7 linked regions of the Homo sapiens genome follow. The protein of the gene in region 3 purifies or fractionates together with the protein of the main gene of each other region. This does not show direct contact. Each region holds a gene or a part of one and is shown on either strand. Other genes may lie near its edges.

Region 1 (3,500 bases), on a different chromosome or scaffold from region 3:
TCCTTTAAGAAATAAATTCAAGAAAGGGGGAGTATATCCATATTTTAATAGAAATTTTAAAATGATTTTTATTTTCCTAAATCTGCCACAATGTGCTACTAAAACAATCAAGGCCTGAAAAAAATGCATGAGTCAATCAGTAACTAAGTATGTAAATGCATAAACCTGATTGTATTGTTTTGAAGAAAACCAAATTAAAATTAACAAAAGTACACTTCCCTCTTTTAATACACAAAAGAAAATCTGTAATGAAAATCTTCCTTTTGTGTATAAAAACGATGTATCTTTGCTCTTTGAATTGCTTGTAAAGTTACTCTGAAAACAAAAACTTATTTGAAGATACTACATTTTTAAATTATAAACTATTTTTTGAAGAGGTATCTTTGTGACACAGTCGGGCAGTAATCAATTCTGTACTGCTGCACCATCTTTAGTAGTGTAATTACCAAATATGGGTTGCAACATGTAGGCTTTAAGGTGGTAAGCAGAATAAAGATAACAACAACAGAGTTGCAGTCCCAGCTACTTGGGAGGCTGAGGTGATAAGCAGGATCATCTGAGCCCAGCAGTTTCAGGCTGTAGTGAGCTATGATAGCGTCACTGCATTCTAGCCTGACCTACAGAGTGAGACCCTGTCTATAAATAAATTAATTAATTAATTAATTAAATAACAGTCTCTATAATTCTACTATTCTAGATAACTATTTTTAACTGCAATCTCAATAGCTTTGAAAATTAGTTTCATTGGCCAGGCGCGGTGGCTCACACCTGCAATCCCAGCAGTTTGGGAAGCCGAGGGGGTTGGATCACGAGGTCAGGAGTTCAAGACCAGCCTAGCCAAGATGGTGAAACCCCATCTCTACTAAAAAAAAAATACAAAAATTAGCTGGGCATGGTGGCGGGCACCTGTAATCCCAGCTTCTCAGGAGGCTGAGGCAGACAATTGCTTGAACCCGGGAGGCAGAGGTTGCAGTGAGCCGAGATCACGCCACTGCACTCCAGCCTGGGCGACAGAACGAGACTCTGTCTCAAAAAAAAAAAAAAAAAAGAAAAAAGAAAGAAAATTAGTTCTGTTCAGTTCAGTTTGGGGAGGCAAGCATTCTACAACAAATGCAAATGAGTAAGATGTAAATTAAAAAGAATATGTCATTTTAAAAGCCACCAAATTCTCAGTTTAGCCTAATTTATAGCAATGATTAAAGAAAAATAAAAATACTCATTGATAAACGTGCTAATTATTTCCTCCCAGGAGCTCAGCCACAAATTCATAACCAGGTTTCTAGAACAAATTTCTAGAATATACTCAAGCTCTGAAGAAGAAATATGCATCTCCTTTCCAACTAGCCATCAGTGTTTTTAATTCATTTTTGATCATGAGAACACTACTTACACCAAAGAACATGTCTTGATAGCTTCAAGTGCTGTGTTTAAAAAGATGTAACAGAGAAACTCTATGTTTGAACGCAAAACACCACAGGAATCACCGGCAAATTCTAAAATGAAAAACAGGTCTCTGAAATGCCCAGAGCCAGCTGCTACTGTCCAGAAGCCAGCTCCTTCCCACAGAGCAGCAGATCGGCATGAGCCACAACTTAAGTGGGAATGTCATCTCCTAAGGCAAGGTTCGGCAAAGTTTTTCTGTACAGGACCAGCTAGTCAATATCTCAGACTTTGCAGGCCTCATAGTCTCTGTAACTACTACTCAGCTCTGCCTTGTAGCACCAAAGCAGCCAGACAATAAGTAAACAAATGAATGTGGCTGAGAGCCAATAAAACTTTAATTTCATATAATTTTCATGTTTCATAATATATTATTCTCCTTTTGATATTTTTCAACCATTTAAAAATGTAAACATCTCTGTTAGTTCACAGACCACACAAACACAGGTAGCTGTTTGGGGTCTGCTAGATTTGGCCTATGGGCCATAATTTACCACTCTGGCCTAGGGCCCAGTTTTCCTTCAGCCTGTGCCTACTCCTTTCTCCTCCTTTTACATAACCTGCAAATTATGCCTTTTCCCTTTTAGCAAAGCTTTCCTTTTGTTTCTCTAAGTCACTGATGGCCAGTTTCTGTTTCTTTCTCATAGGTCCCAAAAGTCCAAGAGAACAATTATGAGGTCAGGAAAGACAAGCACAGCCTGAAGAAGGGGCACAGGCCCCTCTTCTACTGCTTTCCACCTATGTGAGCTTGTGCAAGGTATGTAACCATCCCAAATCTCCATTTCACCACCAATAAAAAAAATTATGGCACCCAACTACCTGAAAGTAATAGTGAAGGTGCCACTTTGTATTGAGTAAAGCAGGTAAAGCGGGAAATACAACCCGTGGAGAAGGGTTGCCAAACATGGTTCAGAAACAAGGCAGCAGATATTTCACTTCTAAGCTGTTAAATCATGTAGCATATGGGTTCCCAAGCAGAGAAAGGAAGCTCAGTGAATTCAGATAAAGTTCTGGGGGAAGAAGAAACTAGCAACCTCATTGACTGCACGCTACTTTTCATAATTCTCAGAACAGGCCAGAAACTCAGTAAGCAAAACCTGAGAATGTCTGTGGCAAAACAACAGTGTAGATACTGAAGAGCATAAAAATGAATAAAACTCAGCCCTTCACTTTGAAGAGTTTACAATTTATTAAACATAAGGACCTATAGTACAAAGTAAATATGATTTGTATAAACCAGCTACATTAAGAAGTTAAAAATAAAAAGAACCAAACAAAAATAGCCAGGAGAAGAATTTCCTAGGAGCTAGACTTAAACAATAAACAGGATTTCAAAAAACTAAAAAGGAAGGAACAGAAATTTGAGAGTGCTATTCATGCACATATCTAGGATTACAGGACATGCGGATTCTCAATTCCAGTAGATATTATTAAATTGTTCTCCAAAGACACTGTGCTTCCATCAACGGTCAATTCCCATCCTGACATTTGGTACAATCAGAGTTTATTTTAAGATGCTTTGTCCCATGTGTTGGATAGAAAAGGGTAGCTCAATTTAATTTTCATTTCTTGTCTTCACATTCTCTATAGTAGTTTTATATGTCTGTTGTCATGTGAAATAAAAGGCACAGTCTGTTTATGGATGATATGTCATTCTGTGTGGCTGAAGCACAGAATACAGAAAGTACAGAGGACAAGACCCTCTCTCTTCCAGAGGTTTCTCCAGGCCCTTGCTCTTTTCCTCTCCACCCCATAAATTGCTGGTTTGCATCAGTAGATAGGGACAAACCTTTCCTTTTTTCCTTGAATGTACCACAGTAAATTAGAGAGTTTATAAATGAATGAATGTGGTACAAAAATACTGGTCTTGACAGAAACATTTGAAACCATTTCCTTTGTTTTTGCCCAAAACTTGGTTTCTGCCCAGTTTGGATCATAGAATAGTAAGGTGCCTCAGAAAACACACACAAATTTTATCCAGGTCTGGAGACATGACGGCAAAGACTTGGCAGGAATACATCCACCTTCTCCTTATCCCATCTAGAAGGCAGAAAGGGCAG
Region 2 (3,500 bases), on a different chromosome or scaffold from region 3:
CTGCTTTACCTTGAGGTCTTCGATCAGTGGGGAGGGGCTCCACCTGGCTGCTGAGGCCTGGTGACTCTGCAGCTCTGGCTCTGCAGGGTACACACGTTGCTCCATGAAGTGCTTCAGCCGGTGATACAGCTCTCTGACAGGTGGAGAGAGGCTCTCTGGAGAGATAACCAGACCTCCCCTTGAGGTATGAGCTGGGGAAGCTTCTGGAACGGAGCTATAACTCCTGCTGCCTGTGGGGCACCACTGGGACTGGGGCCTGGCCCACGTGTGGTAGGACCTTGTTAACGGATTTGTGAAGGGCATCTCTTTGAAAACCCGGAACCCTTCTTTGACTGCGAAATCCCACGCCAGGTTAGACACAAATTCGGTCAGCTTTCCAGTTTGTTCCGCATATGTGGAGCTTGCTTGCCCTAAGCAGAATCAAAGAAAAACAGTGATTACTCCCACACGACCCATCATAGGGATGTTAACATGTGATGACACTGTCACTTCAGCAGCTATTGCCATTTGCTGAGCACTTGCTAAGTACCAAACACTGTGCTAAGAGCCACTATAGCTCACTGAATCCCCAAAGCAATACAACTGCTTTCACCTGCACTTTGCACGCAAGAAAACTGAGTCTTAGAGAAGGAGGTGACTTGGACGAGCTGGAAGTTAGGGGGCTGGGGGCCAGAGTCCAACTTAGGTCTGCCTGCTCCCTGCTCTTGATCTCTGCTTTCCTAAAAGACTACATTTAATCAGTAACACCCCAGATCACCTCTGCCGTTGCCAGTGGGCTATAAGAAGTCCTGCATCCTAGACCACCCTTGCTACAAAATTGATAACAGCAATGCCACAACTGACTAAAGGAAGAGCCAACTTCTAGACACCACTGTCTCTGGAGGGAATCAACACCAGCATCACTCAGCTCACTATTTGGCTCTCACAGCGTCTCTTTCTTCTTGTAAAATGTGCATCAAGACTTTTTTTACAAACATATTTTTCCCCATTAAAAAAAATTAAGGTGGCCAGGTGCGGTGGCTCACACCTGTAATCTCAGCACTTTGGGAGGCTGAGGTGGGCGGATCACTTGAGGTCGGGAGTTCAAGACCAGGCTGGCCAACATGGAGAAACCCCCATCTCTACTAAAAATACAAAAATTAGCCAGGCATGGTGGTGTGTGCCTGTAATCTCAGCTACTCAGGAGGCTAAGGCATGAGAATCGCTTGAACCTGGGAGGCAGAGGTTGCAGTGAGCCGAGATCGTGCCATTGCACTCCAGCCTGGGAGAGAGTGAGGCACCCATCTCAAAAAAATAAATAAATAAAAATAAAAAAATTGAGGAGTGGTGTACATACACCTCCTTAATGTAGAACTCTGCAAGTCTTAACAAATCCATAGTTGGGTAACTACCATTGCCATCAAGATACAGAATACTTCGGCCAGGCGCAATGGCTCACACCTGTAATCTCAGCACTTTGGAGGCTGAGGCGGGTGGATCACCGGAGGTCAGGAGTTTGAGACCAGCCTGGTCAACATGGTGAAACCTGTCTCTACTAAAAATACAAAAATTAGCCAGGCATGGTGGCACATGCCTGTAGTCCCAGCTACTTGGGAGCCTGAGGTAGGAGAATCACTTGAACCCGAGAGGCGGAGGTTGCCTGGGCAACAGAGCGAGACTCCATTTCAAAAAAAAAAAAAAAAACAGAATATTTCCATCATCTGGAAATTTCCCCAGTGTACTTTTGTACTCAACCCCTGCCCCCCTGATCCCCAGCACCCACTGATCTCTGTTTCTGTAGTCTGTCTCTTCCAGGATGTCCCATAAATACATATGTCACTCAGCATGTGGCCTTTTCAGTATGGCCTCCATCACTCTGAGCCCTGCATCTGAGACACATCCAGATTGCTATGTGTACAATGTCTCCTCACAGTGAACTTTTTCACAGCCAGCTCTCCTGGATTACTTCTAGCACTTCCATGTCCCCAAGAGACTGTACCCAATAAATGGATAAATTGATAGTTCTAAAGAGACAGCCATTTTCTTTTTTTAAATGATTTCATTTTAGGCTGGGTGCTTTGGCTCACGCCTGTAACCCCAGCACTTTGGGAGGCTGAGGTGGGTGGATTACTGGAGGTCAGTTCGAGACCAGCCTGGGCAACATGGTGAAACCCTGTCTCTACTAAAAGTACAAAATTTAGCCAGGTGTGGTGATGCACGCCTGTAATCTTAGCTACCGGGGAGGCTGAGGCAGGAGAATCGCTTGAACCCAGGAGGTGGAGGTTGCCGTGGGCCGAGATCATGCCATTGCACTCCAGCCTGGGTGACAAGAGCAAAATTCCGTCTCAAAAAAATAAATATTTTATTTATTTTTAAATAAGAGATGGGGCCTTACTACGTTGCCCAAACTGGTCTCGAACTTCTGGCCTCAAACAATCCTCCTGTCTCAGTCTACCAAACTGCTGGGATTACAGGCATGAGCCACCATGCCCAGCTGAGACAGCCATTTTCATGCAGCTTTGGTGTTAAAGATAGTTTAAACTATTCCTTACAGAGTTAGGAACAAACTCAGAGCAAATTCTTTGCTACCCTGCAGAGAGTTAGCCTACTGGACCTCAATAGGTCTCTACTGAGGACCTTCTGGGTGCTAGGTATGAACCTAACCCAGGGAAGTCAGTCAGAAACCAGATAGCCTCTTCCTTGCAGACACACAGTGGGGGCTTATTCCTTATTCCTCGGACTGCACACAGCACATTGAAGGGAAAGATACTCCCTTATGTTCCTTATTATTCATAAGGATTTTCTTCTTCTAACAGAGTAAGAGGTGTATTCTTAATTTTCTTCTATTTGGTTGGCTCCCACTCTGAGACTGCTACTTTGTCCCTGAAAAAAGTCACTTGTATAAGCTTGGATTGATTTAGATCTATTGCTTCTGGTATATTTTCCAAAATGTAGTTCCAGCAGAAGAGACCACATCACTGGTGTCCACTTAACTTGCAGTCATAAGCACTTTATAGAATTTCAGTGGCCATCTACCAGAAATCTAATTTCTGCACCCACTTATTAAGGAAGGAGAAGGACACATGGGCTGGGCAGGTACATACTGTTAATCTTCTGCTCACTGGGCTCTGGTCTCTCTCATCCCCTTCCCAATCTAATGCTGATTTGAAGTCTTTTGTAAATGACACCATAGAGAGAATGTCTTGGAAACAGATACCCCTTCTCTAAGCTCCAGTTTTCCTGGCCAGTACCAAATATCTCAGCTGTTCAAACAAAAATGATTTTAAAGCTAATTGTAGAAGACAAATGTACAGAAGTAATATTTATGTTTGTATAGTTGGTTTTTTCCCCATTCATCATACGTTTTTATATTATTCTTTCAAAAAATGGATTTTGTTGTTTTTACATGAGAAAACTAAGCCATTTCCTCAGTGTGTCTGGCTGGCTTCCCAGAGGGAGGGAAAGGAGTGCACAGTAAGATAAGAGGAATAAAGGCCTGAACAAACAGACATTTTTCTGTC
Region 3 (3,500 bases):
TCATAGCTAAGTTCACAGAGCTGATAAGCAATGTGATTAAGATTTGACGCCTGAATATGCAAGGTCAGGACCCTCCCCTGGGCTTCATCAATACGTCATCCCACCTTTCCAGGAATTACTCCCTTCTGTGAATCACCAGTGGAAATTTTTCTTCTTCCAACCACTCTGTCCAAGTCAGTTTCTTGATCTATCAGTTCTTTCAGAAGAGAAAATGGAATTATTTGTCATGATTTGTTTTCAAAGGACTTAGGCTTACTCCTCTGAATGTCTACTTCTCTTCTAACTACTCATTTCTTCCTTGTATGAGATTGTATATAGCACAGCAGTGTGGGCTTGAGATGAACAAGATCACAGAACTCTATCAAGGTGACTTTTTCAAATGCCTACAGCCCTTTAAAAAGCAAGATTGATATAATGATAATATGTTTATATAGGAGTTTGTTCTTACCCTTTAAAAACACTTACTGAAGTACTTAAGGGAGATATGTTCATGTCTATAATTTACTTTTTTAAAAAATATAGCAAAAATAAATACATGAAGCAATGACAATGTGCTAATTGGTAAATCTCAGTAATGGGTTTTTATCTTTAATTATGTGAAAAGTTTTACAATAAAGGGTAAAAAAAACACAGCCAAGTAAAAGAGTAAGTAATGATTATATAATAGAGATTGAGGTAGTGAATACTAAGAAATAATCACTTATCTACTTCTATTCTCATTAAAGCAGACACTGATGAGTTTACCAAATGAGACAGGCATGGTGTTGAACACTTTTCATCCACTGTCTCCATTAATCCACAGCAATCCTATGAGGTTGGGATTATTCTCTCCATTTTGGATGAGAAAACTGAGATTGGAAGAAATGAAATGGCTTGTTTCAGAGTACTCTTAACCAAGGCAGTGCACTCTCTTTGCCTTAGGGAAAGCTGTGCAGAAGTGGCTGACTTGAAAGAATTCAGGATAGCCAGGAGTAGGCAGGTTGGGTAGGTGAAGGCACCAAGGGAATGATAAAATGGATGAATGGGGAGAAGGCTAACAATAGCAGGTCCCAATGAGGCCTGAAGATTTCAGTGAAGTGATGAGGTTGAGGTTGGGGAAGTAAAAGTACTAGGGAGTGGTTTGTTTTATGACTCTACTGGTACATGTCATGTATGTAAGAGGTATGGGGCATAATTGATGACTACTGAAATTTCCAAGAATGAGGATGCAATTGGCATAGATGGGAAGAAGATGTAAGTAGGAGTGGGAAGGATATATTTTAGGCAGGAGTTCTTGCCTTGTTAAGAAATCACAACATACCAGCTATCCCATTCAATTCTTTATTTTTTCTTTCTTCTTCTTTCTTCTTCTTCTTTTTTTTTTTTTTTTTTTTTTTGTTGTTGTTGTTGTTGTTGCTGTTGAGATGCAGTCTCGCTCTATCACCAGGCTGGGGTGCAGTGGCACAAACTGCAACCTCTGCCTCCCGAGTTCAAGCGATCTCCTGCCTCAGCCTCCTGAGTAACTGGGATTACAGGCACCTGCCACCAGGCCCAGCTAATTTTTGTATTCTTAGTAGAGACAGGGTTTCACCATGTTGGTCAGGCTGGTCTTGAACTCCTGACTTCAAACAATCCACCCGCCTCGGCCTCCCAAAGTGCTGAGATTACAGGCGTCATCCACCATGCCCAGTCTATCCCATTCAATTCTAAGGCTGATCAGGAGAAAGGTTACTAACAACAACTCCCCAGTCTATAAGATTGTTTTGACAAAGGGAAAAGGATTTTAATTAATTAATTTTAGCATCTCCAAAATAATTCACTACTTTTTAATAAGTATTTCCTTTGAGTAAAGGGTACTGGCCTGGATTCCAACTAGAATTCAATTTTAAAAGACATTTTGCTAATTGGGCAGGGGGAAAAGTCCTATCTAAGAAAATGCGGTCAAATGTGTGCTGTGTTGGAATTCTGCTGGTGGCTTGGGGAGTGGGTGTGAGCAAAGCAAATAATTTTTGTAAAATTGAAATTAGCTTATTTCAGTTTATAGCTTTTCACTTAATTTTCAAATACAAGTGGCTATTTCTAAATGAAGTAAAATAGTGTAAATTGTCCTACTCATCCAGTAAATACAAAAACAAACAACTGTGAGCCAGGTCGGCGGGGAGGTGGGGGGGGTCCCTATCCAAAGCTTGCTTTTACATCTCCCTTCAGTTCTCATTAAAGTAAGTACCAAAGATCAAACAAACCCAGGACCCATGCTGAAGGCTAGGGCTCAAGTTGTTTACTTCATCTGTGCCAGAAGCCTGCTTGGCCACCAGGCTGGGATGCAGTCACATGGGTTGAAGGATAATAAATAATCCTATTTCACCCTCCCAGATCTCCATCAAGAGCCACCAGGGAGCAGTAGATCACTAAGTCACTCACCCGGCTGCCTCTGGTTAGACATTTGCTTGAAAACAAATGGGAAAGCTTATAGAAGGGGAAGAAGGAAGGAGAAAGAATAATGGCACCAATAATTCACATCTGTGTGGCATTTTGATTCTCAAAGGGCTTCACATATATGCTTGTTTTTATCTTGCCTTTTCATGAGCAGGACGCGCATCATTAGTCTCATTGTACAGAAGAGGAATCCAAGACCCAGAAATGCTAAGGCAGGAATTTGTTCTAAATCATCCAGCTTGTTCAGAACATGGGCTAGGAGGACAAATGCCCCTGTTTGAATCCTGGCTTTACCACTTATGAGTTATGTGACCTTGGATGTTACTTAACCTCTCTGTGACCCCATTTCCTTTTCTGTAAAATGGAGCAAAGGATAGTATCCATCTCAAAGCTTGCTGTGGGGATCAAATGATAGATTGTATGTCAAGTGCTAAGAACATTTTTGGCACAAACTATTTGATAAATACTGCTATTATATTTGTAGAATGTCTTATGGTTCACACAAAGTGTATTCAGTTCAACTACATTTATTAAACACCAGAGCCAGGCACTGTGCTAAATTCTGGAGATGCTAGAAAAAATCACTTATGATCCCACCATGCTTTGGGTCACAGGGAAATGTAAGAGATAAGTGGAAATACACCGACACATTTGGTATAAAGTGTTATTTTTAAGCAACAAAGGTAATTAGAGGGAGAATTTAGCCCAGTCTGGGAGTATTAGAAAGGACTCCCTGAAGGAAAATACTTTTCTAGCTTTACCTTTGCTAAACACCCTCTGGAAAAAAAGTGTAATTTTTGTCTATTCTATGAATGCATGGAAAAAAGCTCAGATAAGTTAAAGGACTTCCCAAAGTCCCTCAGTGAATGGCAAAGTGGTGTCTCAGTTATGCTACCCCATCCCAAGGATACATTTCCTGTGAATAAAGTCATTAAGTAATAAGCTGTTTTTTTTCTTTTCTCCCACTATCTTTCTTGCCTAAAAGGAAACAAAAACTATATTTCTTTCTGCAACCCCCCTTTTTGCCCTGAAAAATTTGGCACGGTGCCAAATTCTGTAAAATCCACCATCTGCTAAGAGTCACA
Region 4 (3,500 bases), on a different chromosome or scaffold from region 3:
AGAACACCAGATTTGAAATCTAGAGAACCTGCCTCCTAGTCTCACCTCTACTCCTAAATAGCCTGCTTACCTTGGGCTTGTCCCTTTTCCTGGGCCGCAGTTTTGCCACCTGTTAACAGTGTGGGGTTGGGCTTGGTGCTCCTAACATCCTCTCTAGCTCAGGCATTCTAAGCACCCTGGGATGCGGGCCATGTTACTTGTAAGGAGGAGCGGGTGGTATACAATGGAAGGGTGTACTGGTGATTGCCTTAGCACAGAAGACTGGGGCTTCACCTTGAATAACTCAGCAACTGGTTCATCACCCCATCTTTGTAAGCACCTCTCTACATGCAGAGCTCCCAGCTAGGAGCCAGGGAGGCCGTGAGGGAGATACAGTTTCCATCTTTAGGAACTAGAGTCAGGTTGGGAGAGAAGAGGCAGGTATGTGTGTGACTCATCAGAAGTTCAATGTGGGGTGTGCTGAGGTCCACAGGAACTGTCCAGCCCTTTAACTTATTGCTCATATTTGCATCCCTAGCAATTAGGGTAGGACCTGGCATGCAAAAGTGACTTGGTGAATGCTTATCTGTCTAATACGGGCATGAGGGTGAGACCCCACAGGCCTGGAAACTCCCCAGAGGAGACAAGCCGCAATGTCCAGGTAGAAGGGAGTGGAGGAGTGACGCAGCCCACGGTGGTACCCAACCATCCCCAAGGCCAACCTCCAGGCTTTCTTATTCCTGTGTCCTGAGGCTGGATGTACTAATTTTGTGGAACCTGTTGCTTTGGATTCAATTTTGCAAACATCCACAGCCTTCTGGTTATGTAATGTCCAGAGTCAGCCCTGGCCAGTTGCCCTTGGCTGCCTAAGCTTGGTCATGAGACCAGCTTATGTCTTCAGACAGCCCTGGGGAGAGAAAAATGGGCAGGGGTGGGGAACCAGCAAGAGCAACAACAACGCAAAAAGCCCACTTTGCAACCTCTGGCAGACAGCGCGGGAATGCCAAAGCATATTAGACCAAAGCAGAGGTTCAGAAAACACACGAACCTGCCTGGTCTGGAACAATCCTCATTACGAGACACTCGGTGGTCAGCAGAGAGCTGAGAGGGAAATAGCTGGGAGGCAGCAGTTCCTAAGCCTGCCTGGTTTCCTTCCTACCATCAGGGCCTGGAGACCAGGGTGACCAGAGGCCCTTCCTGTGGACATAATGTCCCATTCCCCCTTGCTGGTGTCAGACCAGCCACGGGTGGTTGTTTAGAGACCAAACAACACTTGCTAGCCTATCAGCATCAGACACTCCCACTCCCAGGCTGGTGGGCTTAGAAGACACACTCCCACTCCCAGACTGGTGGGCTTAGGCTTTCGGTTCACCATCCTTCGCCTGAGCTCATGAATCATGGTGCTGGGAATTAGATGTAGGATCCCTCGTCTTACTTCTGACAGAGGCGCAAAGGGGAAATGACTTACTCAGAGTCAAGCATTTAACTAAGGGCAGATCTGATCCCCAAGCTGAGGCATCGGAATTTCTTCCCAATCCTGTGTTCTTTATATGACTCCCAAATCTCCCTGCCATCTTAATCATCAGTCACCATCTCATGCCTTTCATTCACTCTGACCCTCCATAGAGGGTATCATGATCCATAGAACTGGTCAGTGCCCTTCTATCCAGAGACACCACTGGAATCTGCTTGTCTCTAGGTACCAGCCTGCAAGTCAGACAAGATACAGGCTAGAAGTAATAGTCCGTCCATCCATCCTCTCGTGCTTCCTTCCCACCCTCTCTCTGTGCTTAGTACTGTACTATGAACTGGGGATACAAAGATAACACTGCTTATAATTATGATAAGACTTGGCATCAGTTAACATTTACTGAGCAATTGCTTAGTGCCAGGCATTCTGCTAGGTCTTTGCATAGATCAGTACTTATACTAACACTGTAAAATAGATAACACCTTGTCCTCTGTTTGACAGGTGAGGCAACTGAGACCTGGGAGGTCATATAACTGTTAAGATTATATGGCCACAAAGTGGCAAACCTGAGCAAAACTACAGGGTCTTTGCCTATAAGGAGATAATACAGTATGGAGCAGCAGGCTGATTCATCATTCCTACCCACTTTGGGGTATATAAATGCCCACTCCATATGTTTTTAGTTCCCAGGGAACAAAAAGAGGTCAGTTTGGGTTTGTTGGTTTATCATCCAGCAGTGTAGGGCTGGACTTGTAATATCCTGCAAAGGGTGTATCAGAAAAATCTTTGTAGGAGGGAAGAGAGAGAGGCCAGAGAGGCAAGCCTGCATGAGTTTTGGCACTGGTCCCTGGGAGACTTTGTTCTAGCAGATTAGACAGTCTACCCTAGAGAGTCAGAAGGGGTGAGCAAGGGCTTCCTTAGAGCAGGACTAAAGGAACTTGGAGAACCTGAGACTCCGAGCCGCCCTGTCTGACCTCTCTCTTCTCTCACTGATGGAAGGCAGGCAGACCTTCTCCCGTCTGCTAACTCTGGAGCCTCTGACCCATCTCTCAGGAACACTTCAGTACACAGAGACCTGCGATATGTGTGTGTGTGTGAGGGAGCAGGGTGTTAGAATGTTGAGAGAGCTTATTGCAATCCCAAACTTGGAAATTAGCTGGGCTGTGGGGTGAAGGTGAAAGTTTCCAGAACTGGCTGCTCTAAGCTGTGGGGACCTTATCTCCCATCAGGACCATGAGAAACCGATCCACTGTGCCAGGAGTTATTGTTTATGTAGCGGAGACATGCTCTCCAGCTGGCTGCAGGGGACAGAACGTGGGGGACATTATGTCCCAGCTGGTCCTGGGAGGGTCCCATGGGGAGACCCGCTGGTCATGTGCTTTGCATGTCCTGACTGTAGGCAGAGCAGACCTCCAGGGACTTCCTTCCTTTAGTGGTTTGTCTAACCAAATGAGCAATAGCAGGGTCTCGCCTTTGAAGCTCTAGCTGGAAGCATCTTTGACCCCCAGCCCACAGGGAACCATTCTTCTTGCAATGCCCGTGGTTCTTCCTGCCTTAGGACTCTCATCCAGCCCTCTGCAGAGACTGGCTCCATTTCTACATTCTCTGCCTGTCCTGCTAGACAAATTGCTGTATAGAGAAAGATCATGGCCGTGATAGCTCGGTCGGTCTGTAAATAAGAATTTGTGGGTTTAAATGAGTCCGTGATGTACACCAGCATCCAGAACAGTGTTGATCTTTGGTAGGCATGCAAGACATAGTTGGAATCATTGAGGCAACTCATGCTGTCAATGTAGAGTGAAGGCCAGACATTTCATAAGAAATATGCAAATGTCCCCAGACTCAGAAACTTCTTTTTTACTTTATTTGTCCCTTCACTCCAAGGGAAGCTAACATCTTGGAACTTTGTGTAGATGCTACCAAGAAGAAGAAGAGGGGCCCAGAGGCATGCAGAACCCAGCTGAAAAAGAACAACCCACTTATGTCTGAAGTTCTAAACCAGCTTTAACTACTCTTGTTAAGAGCTGAGGAAGGGACTTAGGAGAAAGGG
Region 5 (3,500 bases), on a different chromosome or scaffold from region 3:
GAACTCCAGCCTGGGTGACAGAGCGAGACACTTTCTCAAAAACAAACAAGAAGTCCAGAGCTGGCAAGCGCCACATGGCCCTGAATGAGTAGTAGCGGAATTCAGGTGCTGGGAAAGAGACAGAGCCACAGCATGTCAGAGCCAGCAGGGACCTGAGAATCACCGGGTCCAGCCCTGGAATCTTAGAAACGAGGAGGTGAAGCCCAGAGCGGGGATCGATTTGCCCGAGATCACACAACCGCTTGGCGACAAGCTGGGATAGTGCCCAGAATCTGGGCCACCTGGCTGCCTTTTCTACCCAAGAGCCACAGGGCTTTGGACTTCAGGGAAAGTTGTGGAGCGAGAACCTGAGAGCCACTAAAACACTCAGAAATGCCTCTCCCCTCTCCTCCCTTTCCCCCATCCTACGCACCAATGTTGTCCTTTTCTTTGCAAGAGATGGAGTAGCAGCAGATCTCTCGGTCCTGGATGGCAGACAGATTCCTGGGGGAAACCAGAGTAGAGTCCGCTGAGGCTACGAACGTCCAGGGGGCCTGGGGCTAGGGGACAGCGGGGCCTTTTTCTTACCTAAGAGGCTACAAAGGGGAGGGTGAGGTGCCTGAAAAGGTCGGCTCTGCTGCCACCGTGTGGCTAATACTAAGAACAGCAGCAAGCCTAGGCTGTTGGTCTGGTGGTTGGGGAATTGGGAGAGCAGAAAGTAATATAGAGTCACCCAACTCACATTTTCTCAATCAGCTCCTTCTCATCCAATGCTCCCGGAAGGTCTCGCTTGTTACCCAGGACTAAGACCTACGGAGAAGGGAGGGTGAGGATGAGGTCTAGGGCAGCCGTGCCCAGGTTGTCTGGGTGGTGAGCTGGCCTCCTGGGTCCCGTTTCCTCTCTGCGCCCCTACCATGCCTGGCTTTTACCTGCTCCCAGTGACTTCCCAGCCGAGCTCCCTCCCCATCCCGCTCCCTCAGGTCTGCTGACCGGGATGCCCTGCAGCTGAGGTTTGTCCAGTAGGTTGTGGAGCTCGTTCTTAGAGGCCTCAATCTTCTCCTGGTCAGCAGCATCCACCATGTACCTGGGGAAAGAGGCAGGGTGGGGACAAGCATGTTGACACCACAGGCTGAGGTGGTGCAAGGAAGAGAAGGAGCTGCTGCTTGGAGGTGAAAGCATCTGTTGCAGCTTGGTCACCTCGGGATCCATGGGCTACCTGGCCTGGCTCAAGGCAGGTGCTCCGCGGATGTTTTCTGAGTCTATGGGAGTGAACAGCTGCAGGGACTCCTTAGGCCTGCCATTAGCCTCCAAGTGCTACTCTGGGGAAGCCGTTACTCATGTGGAAAAGCGTGGGCCCTTTGAGATTAGCTGTAAGTCCCTCTCAAAGTGACCCACTTATGTTTTCATGGAAAGACTAAATAAGGTTAGAGTGAAAAAAGCAAAGGAAACCTTAGAAGATTTCTTTTAGCAAGATACTTTTTGTTATCAGGTTAAAAAGCAACCTATTGTGTATTCTAAACAATCTATTGTTTGGGCATATATATATAGAATAAATTTTATTATTATTATTAATATCATTTTTGAGATGGAGTCTCGCTCTGTTGCCAGGCTGGAGTGCAGTGGTGCAATCTCAGCTCACTGCCACCTCCGCCTGCCAGGTTCAAGCGATTCTCCTGCCTCAACCTCCCAAGTAACTGGGACTACAGGCACATGCCGCCACGCCCGGCTAATTTTTTGTATTTTTAGCAGAGATGGGGTTTCACCATGTTAGCCAGGATGGGCTCAATCTCCTGACCTTGTGATCCACTCGTCTCGGGCTCCCAAAGTGCTGGGATTACAGGCATGAGCCACCGCATCCAGCCTATTATTTTCTGAGGCAGGGTCTCACTGTCACCCAGGGTGGAGTGCAGTGGTGCAATTACAGCTCACTGCAGCCTCGGCTTCCTGGACTCAAGAGATCCTCCCACCTCAGTCGTCTGAGTAGCTGGGACTACAGGTGCGTGCTACCAGGCTCAGCTAATTTTTGTACTTTTGTAGAGATAGGGTTGCACCATGTTACCCAGGTTGGTTTTGAACTTCTGACCTCAAGTAATCCGTCTGCCTTGGCCTCCCCCTGTGCCCTGCCATTTTTCTTTTCTTTTCTTTTCCTTTTTTTTGAGACAGAGTCTCGCTTTGTCGCCCAGGCTGGAGTGCAGTGATGCGATCTCGGCTCACTGCAAGCTCCGCCTCCTGGGTTCACGCCATTCTCCTGCCTCAGCCTCGCGAGTAGCTGGGACTACAGGCGCCTGCCACCACGCCCAGCTAATTTTTTTTGTATTTTTGGTAGAGACAGGGTTTCACTGTGTTAGCCAGGATGGTCTCGATCTTCTGACCTCGTGATCCGCCCACCTCGGCCTCCCAAAGTGCTGGGATTACAGGCGTGAGCCACCGCGCCCAGCCCATGCCCTGCCATTTTTCAATGTTTAAAATTTATTTTATTTTATTTTTTTAAAGACAGGATCTTGCTATGTTGCCTAGGCTGGCCCTAAACTCCTGGGCTCAAGCAATCCTCTTGCCTCAGCCTCCCAAGTAGCTGGGATTACAGGTGTGTGGCACCATGCTCAGCCAAAAAAAACATTATTTTTAAAAAGCAAGAGAGGGCTGCGCGCGGTGGCTCATGCATGTAATTTGGGAGGCCGAGGCAGGCAGATCACCTGAGGTCGGGAGTTCAAGACCAGCCTAACCAACATGGAGAAACCCTGTCTCTACTAAAAATACAAAAGTGGCCAGGCGTGGTAGCGCATGCCTGTAATCCCAGCTACTTGGGATGCTGAAGTGGGAGAATCGCTTGAACCTGGGAGGCAGGAGGTTGTGGTGAGCCGAGATCGCACCATTGCACGCCAGCCTGGGCAACAAGAGCGAAACTCCGTCTCAAAAAAAAAAAAAAGAATCATTTAAACCACACAAAATTCAAGACAGTGGTGACTTTGGGTTGAGGGGAGGGAGACAAGTCAATGAAGAGGATGCACAGGTGCATCTGGCTGGTTAATAGTCTATAGTCTGTTTCTTAGATTGGGTAGTGAGTGCCCAGGGCATTTATCCAATAAGAAACAAGTGGCATGCAAAATAAACGCAGGCCCTGGACCGACACTGTGTCATGAACCAAGGATTATGTCTAATAAAACCCTGCGCCTCTGAGGTCCTCGAAGGTAGCAGGGCTAGGGGGGCCGGGTAAGGCTGGAGTCTGGCGATGCCTCCCGTGTACTTACACGATGGCGCTCACTCCTCGGCAGTAGCGCTCCCACATGCTGCGGAAACGCGGCTGTCCCCCAATGTCCCAGAGCTGAGCAAGAAGAGGGTGAGATAGCCTCAGTAGTGGGCAGGCCACCAAAACGTGTCTTGGGTCTCAAATGCCCCCTCCTACCCTGCCCTACTCTCCTCTGCCTCCCCGGCTTCCTCTCCAGTTCTCCCCCGTCTCCACCCGCTCTCCGTCTACCTTAGAAGTCTTCTACTGTCTTTTCCCAGCTCCTCAGCAGGGGGAC
Region 6 (3,500 bases), on a different chromosome or scaffold from region 3:
ATCCATCAGTCTCTTCCCATACCTCTTTTAGTTGATCTTTGCTTCCCTGTGAACCAATTTTAAAAAATTGCTCAAAACAAAATATAATCTATCTGTACAGACTCAAAATATAAATTTGAGGAACTTGGCAGAAGAATCAAGATTTAAGTACTAATAACACAATAAAAATCCGCTGATACGAAGAAGTATCTTTATCTAAAAATGGTTTCATAAAGTCACAATCCTTACTGGGTGATTAACTTTAGGGTGATTTTCATGCTTTTTCTTCATTTCTTCAAATTTAGACTCTTCTTCTTTTCTCTTTTCTTCATTCAATGTTTTTAAATATTCTCTCCTTTCATGTTCCTTCATCATTTCATATTTTTTAAATTCTTCATGACGAGTCTTGTCATAGTGTTCCAGATCACTTGTTGCCTGAAATGCAATAATGCATTTAAGTTAAATAAAAACATTCACTTGAAAAATGTAAATAAAGCCATTCTTGAATATAGCATACTCTTGAACAGAAGTGGTACGGGAGGGCAAAAACATACTGGACTCCTCTTTTTAAATTCTACCATTTCATTTTAGTCAAGTTTTTTCTTCTTTTTTTTTGAGACGGAGTTTCACCCGTCACCCAGGCTGGAGTGCAGTGGCACGATTTCGGCTCACTGCCACCTCCACCTCTTGGTTCAAGCGATTATCCCACCTCAGCCTCCTGAGGCCTCTCGAGTAGCTGGGATTACAGGCGCTCACCACCACTCCCGGCTAATATTTGTATTTTAAGTACAGACAGGGTTTCACCATGTTGGCCAGGCTGGTCTTGAACTGCTGACCTTGGGTGATCCACCCTCCTTGGCCTCCCAAAGTGCTGGGATTACAGGCATGAGCCACCATGCCCAGCAATTTTAGTCATCATTATTACCAGAGAGTATTCAAAGAAACTAAAAGTTCAAAGCTAGCCCCAACTTTAGGAAACTCCTCATAAGCAAGTAATATGTAAGTTGATTTAAAAAAAAAAAAGAAGAAGAAAGGAACTATTATCAAATCTAGACAGTACAGAAAACTAAAATGGCTTCTAACCATTTAACTAATCTAATACCTGCCAGGTTAGAACTAGTTCCATTCACACATAATGTGAGAGGTCCACAAACTCTTATCTGGAATCTCTGAGGCCAGATGTGCTCAGAATTTTCTACCTTAAAGAAAGGGAATATGGTACATATGCCATATTATGGAATATCCCTGTAGCATCTGTAATCAAACAGACTAGTATTTCTTAAGCAAAATCTATAAATATTCACACTAAGTAGGTTAAATAAAAACTGTAAATGGTTTTACTATAATTGGTTCATTCAGGCCAGGTTTCAGTTTTTACAGCTTTTGGATTTAGGAATTGTGGATAAGGGATTTTAGACCTGTATGTACATATTAATATCTGTATTAATAAGGGTTAAGCTACCTTCCTTTAAAGAACTTCTACAGAATATATAAAAGTTATATTTCCATTTCATTGGGTTTACTTGTCAAATTACAAAACCTCAAAGGCACAATAAAGACAAAACTTTTTGGAATTATTCTCACCGCTTTGATTAGCATATCTAAATCTGTGGATTCAAACTTGTCAGGATTCAGGTGGTTTAGGTGATCAAATTGTTTTAGAAGAGCTTGGTGGTCCATGCCTATATCTGAAAGAAAATAAGAAAACTGTAAATGATCAATTTCTAGAAGCTAGAAACATAATAATTATACACAAGAAAAAGATTTCATATTTATTCCTATAGGATTTTATAAGGAAATCCAAAGTTTTAGAATAAAGGCTTATATTTACTTTATGAATACTGCGTATGTTATTCTAGTTAAAGGTAGTGTCCTTGAACCTAGAGTGGAATGCAATTTAACATGTATATTTTTAAAAATTCTCTCTCATTTTTTTTTTGAGACATGGTCCTGCTCTGTCACCCAAGCTGGAGAGCAATGGTGCAATCATGGATCACTGCATCCTTGACCTCCTGGGCTCAAGCAATCCTCCCACCTCAGCTTCCTAAGTAGCTAGGACAACAGGTGTGCACCACTACGCCTGGCTAATTTCTTTTTTTTTAATTTTTGGTAGAGACAGGGTCTCACTATATTGCCCAGGCTGGTCTTGAATTTCTGGCCTCAAGTGATCCTCCCAACTCAGCCTCTCAAAGTGCTGGGGTTACAGGCATGAGCCACCATGCCTGGCCTTATGCATATTTTAATGTTATATCTTAAATAACTAGTTGACTATCAGCACAATAACAAACCCTTTTTAATTATCTTAAAACTACTAAATATCCTGCTTTTAATAAATCTCTAATATAGTATCCTTATCAAAGGTTTAAGTAGAATTTCTAAAAATAATTGCTCTAAAGCTTACATGAAAGAATTCCTTGTATATTGCTCCAATGGATCACTTATGAAACAATAAAAATCTAATTTAGGTAAATTTCCTTTTAATTATGAAGTATTTTTAAGGAAATATCAATTTTTTTAACGTTTAAAAAACAAGTTACAATTTACTATAGTGAAATGGGTGAAGTGATGCTGGATTGTTTCAGTTGTATTACATAGTGGACACATGTAATGGATACACAGTGGATATACATACAAGACAGCTCACCAGAAACAACGCAATACGAGCCCTTCTAGAATTGAGCAAAATGGGTACATTGTTGAAGTTGTTGGAAATCAGCTCTCATTTAGGAAGAAGGAATATACAAATATGGAAGGGTGAAAGGCAAGAAAGAAATTGCTAGAGATGAATGGGAATTAGCACTATCTGTGTGAACTCAGCATTTCTAAAATATGTACATTTAACATGTATATGCATGTTTCACATGTATATGAATATGTATGTGTTTATATATGTGTCTATGTGTATAGACATGCATATTTCCTAGCTCCATGCAATTAAGGTGCCAAGAAAATACACTCCAGTAGCAAGGAGCGTACCTAGTGCCAGCTCTTGATCTAAAATATAGTTGCCCCTTAAGAAAAACCAGTGCTCCTCAGAGAAATGGCTCATTCCAGAGCTGGGGCAAGGTAGGTACAAGTTGATCCTGGAACATATTGTTATGCCAGAAAGTGAAGAACTGCTAAATCTGGTTCAACCAAGTTTTCACTGAATTCTAAGTATGGCACTGTACTAGCAGTTCTATTTATGAAGAAAATACTTGTTTTAAGACTTAGCCCTAAAAAAAATGACCAGACAGTGAAATATATAAAAAGACCCTTAACCTCACTCAAAATAAGAGAAATACATATTAAAACTGCACTGCTATACTATCTAACAGAATGGAAAACTCCTAAAGTTTGATGACACATGCCATTAGTAAGCCTGTGAGGAATTATTGCTGGCGGGTATGTGTATTGATACAACCTCTATGGAGGCAAATGTGGCAATATCTATCAAAATTACAAATATATATATATAATTTGATTTGGCAATTCCACTGTGGGGAAATTATCCTAAAGATAATCTTACAGGGATACACAGT
Region 7 (3,500 bases), on a different chromosome or scaffold from region 3:
AGCCTTTTCTCATAGTCTATGGAGTACTGGCCTCAACCAACACTTATTGGGTGGCCACTGTGTCCCAGGCTCACAGGTGCATAGGGTAAGAGCTTAGGACCCTAAAAGGAAGACCCTCTGGGGATGGTGAGAAATCCAGGTGGCTGCGTGAATAATGGCAGGAGAGCTCTGGGTGCCTTTAGGCTACACTAACTAGGTGAGTTTCAGCTAGAGTGGAGATGGCTCTGGGGTCCAGTGGAATCATAATTAGGCAAATGGTGCAGGGCCTTACATAGACTTCCAAACAGAGGATTCTTTTTGGTAGGGAAGAGGAAACCATGAAGGTTTAGGACCACGTGCCCTCTATGAGAAGCCCCCAAGAAACCATTTTCCCCATGTTTGTGTTTGCCCCGGGTTTAGGCTTCTGATGAAGAAGGGTGTTTTTGGAAGTTATTGGATGCATTTCCTCTGCATCTGGAGGAGTATGGAAGAGCTGAAGTGGGAGGGAGGAAGACCATGTCCCTGGGACGTCATTGCCCGTGCATGCAGTGATTCCCTTTCTCAGTAGCAGAGGCTGGGGAGTAGGTGTGGCCATCTGAGCATCTTTATTCTTTCAGTCTGGGCTTCCTTAGATTTGGAGTTGAAGGCTGGCGGTCAGGGGCCCCTGTGTCTGGACTGAGAGACAGCTCACTGTGCAATGAACTCGCCTAGTTCTGGAGGGCAGAGCCAGTTCCTCAGGCCATTCCGGTTGTCTTGGGTTGTTCTGTAGGAAAACCACTGGAATAATTTACTCCAGGGGGTGGACAAGGTGTGCAGAAGGCAGGAGCATCTGCTTTTTATATTTATGGGCCCATCTGGTAAAGAGTGTCCCCAGCAATGGGCTCTCATGGGCCACTCACTGAGCTTTTATTTTAACCTCTCACTGGCCTTTAAAACCCCCCAAGGGGGGTATAGAATGTTTCACATGGCTAACCAGCATTCCTAGGCAGTCCTCGCTGGCAAAGTTTCTGATCTATCTGACCACAAGCATTGCAGCTTTGGGCCATCACCTTGAGCAGGGAAGTCACCATGGAATGTGAGGTCATTCATAACAAGGAGCAATCTGATTTGTCCTCCCTAAGTCTGGGCCACCAGAGAGGCTGCGTTACAGCCCATGGAGCCTTTTCTTTGCAAGTTGGCAGTTGTTGCTATGTGGAAAGAGCAGACTGTGTTTTGAGATGTGTGAAGTAGTTTACTGCCTTTTTATTAATTATTCCTCAAGTTGGAATTGAGTGAACTGTCCTCACCTCATGGATGCAAAAACTGAGAAAAGCAGGGAGAAGGTGGCTCTTGGAAGCTTCTGGGCTTCAGGGCCCAGGGCTTGGCTGAGAGCAGAGCAGAGAGGAGGAATGCTCTGGCTGAGAGAGATCCAGCTGCTGTTTAGGGCCTGCTTGATGACTTTGGAGTCAGCAAGTCTGTGCATGGCCGCTGGGCAAAGGGCTTTAAACCCCCTAAGGCAGGCCCCTGACAGCGCAAGACAACCTAACCCTGTCCCTTGGACTGCCCTGAGGTGGGCAGGTGGGCATGCAGGAGGCAATATGAGGGAAATGCTCCACGCGTGCTTGTTTCCTTCTATTTTTTGAAAACTAGAAACTGCCTCCGGAGCTCAAGTTCACCGAGTGTGTCTGCTAAAGCAGCAACAGGATTTTAGCACCTGACTGTGCCTGCCGCGGCACCAGGGCTAGGTGAGCACACTGCAGGGGTGAGGGTCTGTCTTTCTGAGATACTAACTGGATGCTGTCTTCAAGCTCCTTTCCCCAGAGTAAGGGGAGGGCTGTCTTGGGAATATGCAGACTGTCTTTCGCCTTCCCGGCCAGGGCGTTCTGTCTGCCAGATGAGCCCCCAGAAGCCCAGGGCGGATCTGGATCCCAGAAGGCTGGATGAGCCCATGCTGTCCTCTGCCCTTGGCCCTCTCTCTCTCCAGGAGGAAGCTGTGAACTGCGGGGAGGGGTGTGTGTGCCGAACCAAGTTAATCCAAGCCGTGTTCCGAGCTGGCCTGGTGCCTTCTGAGGCTGCAAGCTCAGCCCGTGTCTAATGACAAAGTCCAGCTCGTTCAACTGGGTGTCAGCAAGCCTAAAGGATTTTAAAAAATACTTGGAGGGGGATGTGCCTGGAGCCTGCCAGCACCCAGTGACATGGCGAGTGGGGGTAAAACCAGGCAGGCGGCAGCTAGGGGGAGACAGATGCTGTGCAGAAAGTGGGGCGGGCAGGAAGGGGTGAGGGGAGCGGAGAGGAAGAGCTTGAAAAGAGCAGCATTAACTGGGGGTGAGTGTTCTGGTGTGGATGGGGGTTGGGTTGAAGAATGGGGGTGGTGCAGATTCTGGGGTGACTGTGATTTCCTCATCTCTAAAGTGAAAAGCAAATTCAGTTCTCTCTTTTTTTTTTTTTTTGACCAATGCCACACATTTGGAAATGGGCTTCTTGATATTTGGGGACTGATAGGATACTTTAATCAGTTAAGATGGTTGGGAAAAAAAAACCTAAAAAACAGGCAGTTCAGCTAGAAGTACAAGTCGATGCACCGCCACATCATGGCTTCAGAAGGAAAGGTAATGGGGGTTTTTGGGAAGCTGGAGTTAGGGGAGACCCCTGCCTAGAGATGCTGACTTAGGGGGAAGCAAGAGGAACAGCATGTGACCAGGCTTCTTATATGGGCTGCCTGCATTTCCAGAGCAGGCTGGGGTGGGGGGTCATAGGCTCATTCTGAATGGTGTGAGGAGACCATGGCCCCGAGGGCCACATTCCCAAGAAGGAGACACTAGAACGCCAGAGAGCTTTACCTTCTTCTTAAATTAAGGGGAGGGGGTGGGACTTCCAACCTTCAGTTTTCCCAAAGAATACTTTTCTCCAAGAAAGATAGAATTCCTGTGCTCCAGGCATGCATTATAGCCTTATAAACTAGGAATGGGCCCCATTCCCCACCGATTCCTGAGGCCAGCAAACTCTCTCTAATGGGGGACAGGGCTAGAGGCGAGTGAAGCTCACGGTGTTTCCTAGCCATGGGGCATTTTTCTCTTCCAGAGGCACCTGAAGGAAGGGAATTTTAGAGTGTTCTCCTTGTGTAATGGGGATATATTTGATAAAAGGACAAGAAGCCCACCACATGTGGGGAGCTGTGAGCCCTTTCAGGTCTAGGAGGGAGATAATAGGCTGGGAGCAGGTTTGAAGTCTATTCCTGATGACTGGCTTCAGTCATGTATACCAGCAATTCCGAAGCTTAAAAGCAGGAATCAAACCTCAGTCCGAGTTCTCTAATCTCTTAGCTTCACTTTCCTCCTCTTGGGCATAGTAATTTCTATCTTGTAGCATCTTTGGGAAAGATAAATGAGATAACCCATGTAAAGGCCCTGGCCAAGGGCCTAGACCATTAGAAAAAAAATTAAAAAAACATAAAAAAAGACAGCTATCATTGTTGTTGATGATGCTGTGGCTGCTATTGTTCCCTTAAAAATATTTGAAGAATAAAAAATATTTTGTAAGGC

The links.
Region 1: the proteins of COLEC10 (region 3) and PLOD2 purify together in Homo sapiens (affinity purification with mass spectrometry; one large-scale study listed by BioGRID and IntAct). This does not show direct contact.
Region 2: the proteins of COLEC10 (region 3) and ACAD10 purify together in Homo sapiens (affinity purification with mass spectrometry; one large-scale study listed by BioGRID and IntAct). This does not show direct contact.
Region 4: the proteins of COLEC10 (region 3) and TIMP3 purify together in Homo sapiens (affinity purification with mass spectrometry; 2 studies listed by BioGRID and IntAct, with this or other methods). This does not show direct contact.
Region 5: the proteins of COLEC10 (region 3) and ARL8A purify together in Homo sapiens (affinity purification with mass spectrometry, with the first as the bait; one large-scale study listed by BioGRID). This does not show direct contact.
Region 6: the proteins of COLEC10 (region 3) and NUCB2 purify together in Homo sapiens (affinity purification with mass spectrometry; 3 studies listed by BioGRID and IntAct, with this or other methods). This does not show direct contact.
Region 7: the proteins of COLEC10 (region 3) and STC2 purify together in Homo sapiens (affinity purification with mass spectrometry; 2 studies listed by BioGRID and IntAct, with this or other methods). This does not show direct contact.

The regions. Positions count from the first base shown.
Region 1 is NC_000003.12:146,154,685-146,158,184, forward strand, and holds part of PLOD2 (procollagen-lysine,2-oxoglutarate 5-dioxygenase 2 isoform 1 precursor), read right to left. Parts: intron 1-3,500. UniProt on the Homo sapiens protein: Forms hydroxylysine residues in -Xaa-Lys-Gly- sequences in collagens. These hydroxylysines serve as sites of attachment for carbohydrate units and are essential for the stability of the intermolecular collagen cross-links.
Region 2 is NC_000012.12:111,741,553-111,745,052, reverse strand, and holds part of ACAD10 (acyl-CoA dehydrogenase family member 10), read right to left. Parts: intron 411-3,500; coding exon 10-410; intron 1-9.
Region 3 is NC_000008.11:119,084,247-119,087,746, forward strand, and holds part of COLEC10 (collectin-10 isoform 1 precursor), read left to right. Parts: intron 1-3,500. UniProt on the Homo sapiens protein: Lectin that binds to various sugars: galactose > mannose = fucose > N-acetylglucosamine > N-acetylgalactosamine. Acts as a chemoattractant, probably involved in the regulation of cell migration.
Region 4 is NC_000022.11:32,850,205-32,853,704, forward strand, and holds part of TIMP3 (metalloproteinase inhibitor 3 precursor), read left to right. Parts: intron 1-3,500.
Region 5 is NC_000001.11:202,134,738-202,138,237, forward strand, and holds part of ARL8A (ADP-ribosylation factor-like protein 8A), read right to left. Parts: intron 3,302-3,500; coding exon 3,228-3,301; intron 1,064-3,227; coding exon 970-1,063; intron 790-969; coding exon 722-789; intron 484-721; coding exon 413-483; intron 1-412. UniProt on the Homo sapiens protein: Plays a role in lysosome motility. In neurons, mediates the anterograde axonal long-range transport of presynaptic lysosome-related vesicles required for presynaptic biogenesis and synaptic function. May play a role in chromosome segregation.
Region 6 is NC_000011.10:17,307,739-17,311,238, reverse strand, and holds part of NUCB2 (nucleobindin-2 isoform 1 preproprotein), read right to left. Parts: intron 1,668-3,500; coding exon 1,564-1,667; intron 415-1,563; coding exon 229-414; intron 47-228; coding exon 1-46. UniProt on the Homo sapiens protein: Calcium-binding protein which may have a role in calcium homeostasis. Acts as a non-receptor guanine nucleotide exchange factor which binds to and activates guanine nucleotide-binding protein (G-protein) alpha subunit GNAI3.
Region 7 is NC_000005.10:173,318,415-173,321,914, forward strand, and holds part of STC2 (stanniocalcin-2 precursor), read right to left. Parts: intron 1-3,500. UniProt on the Homo sapiens protein: Has an anti-hypocalcemic action on calcium and phosphate homeostasis.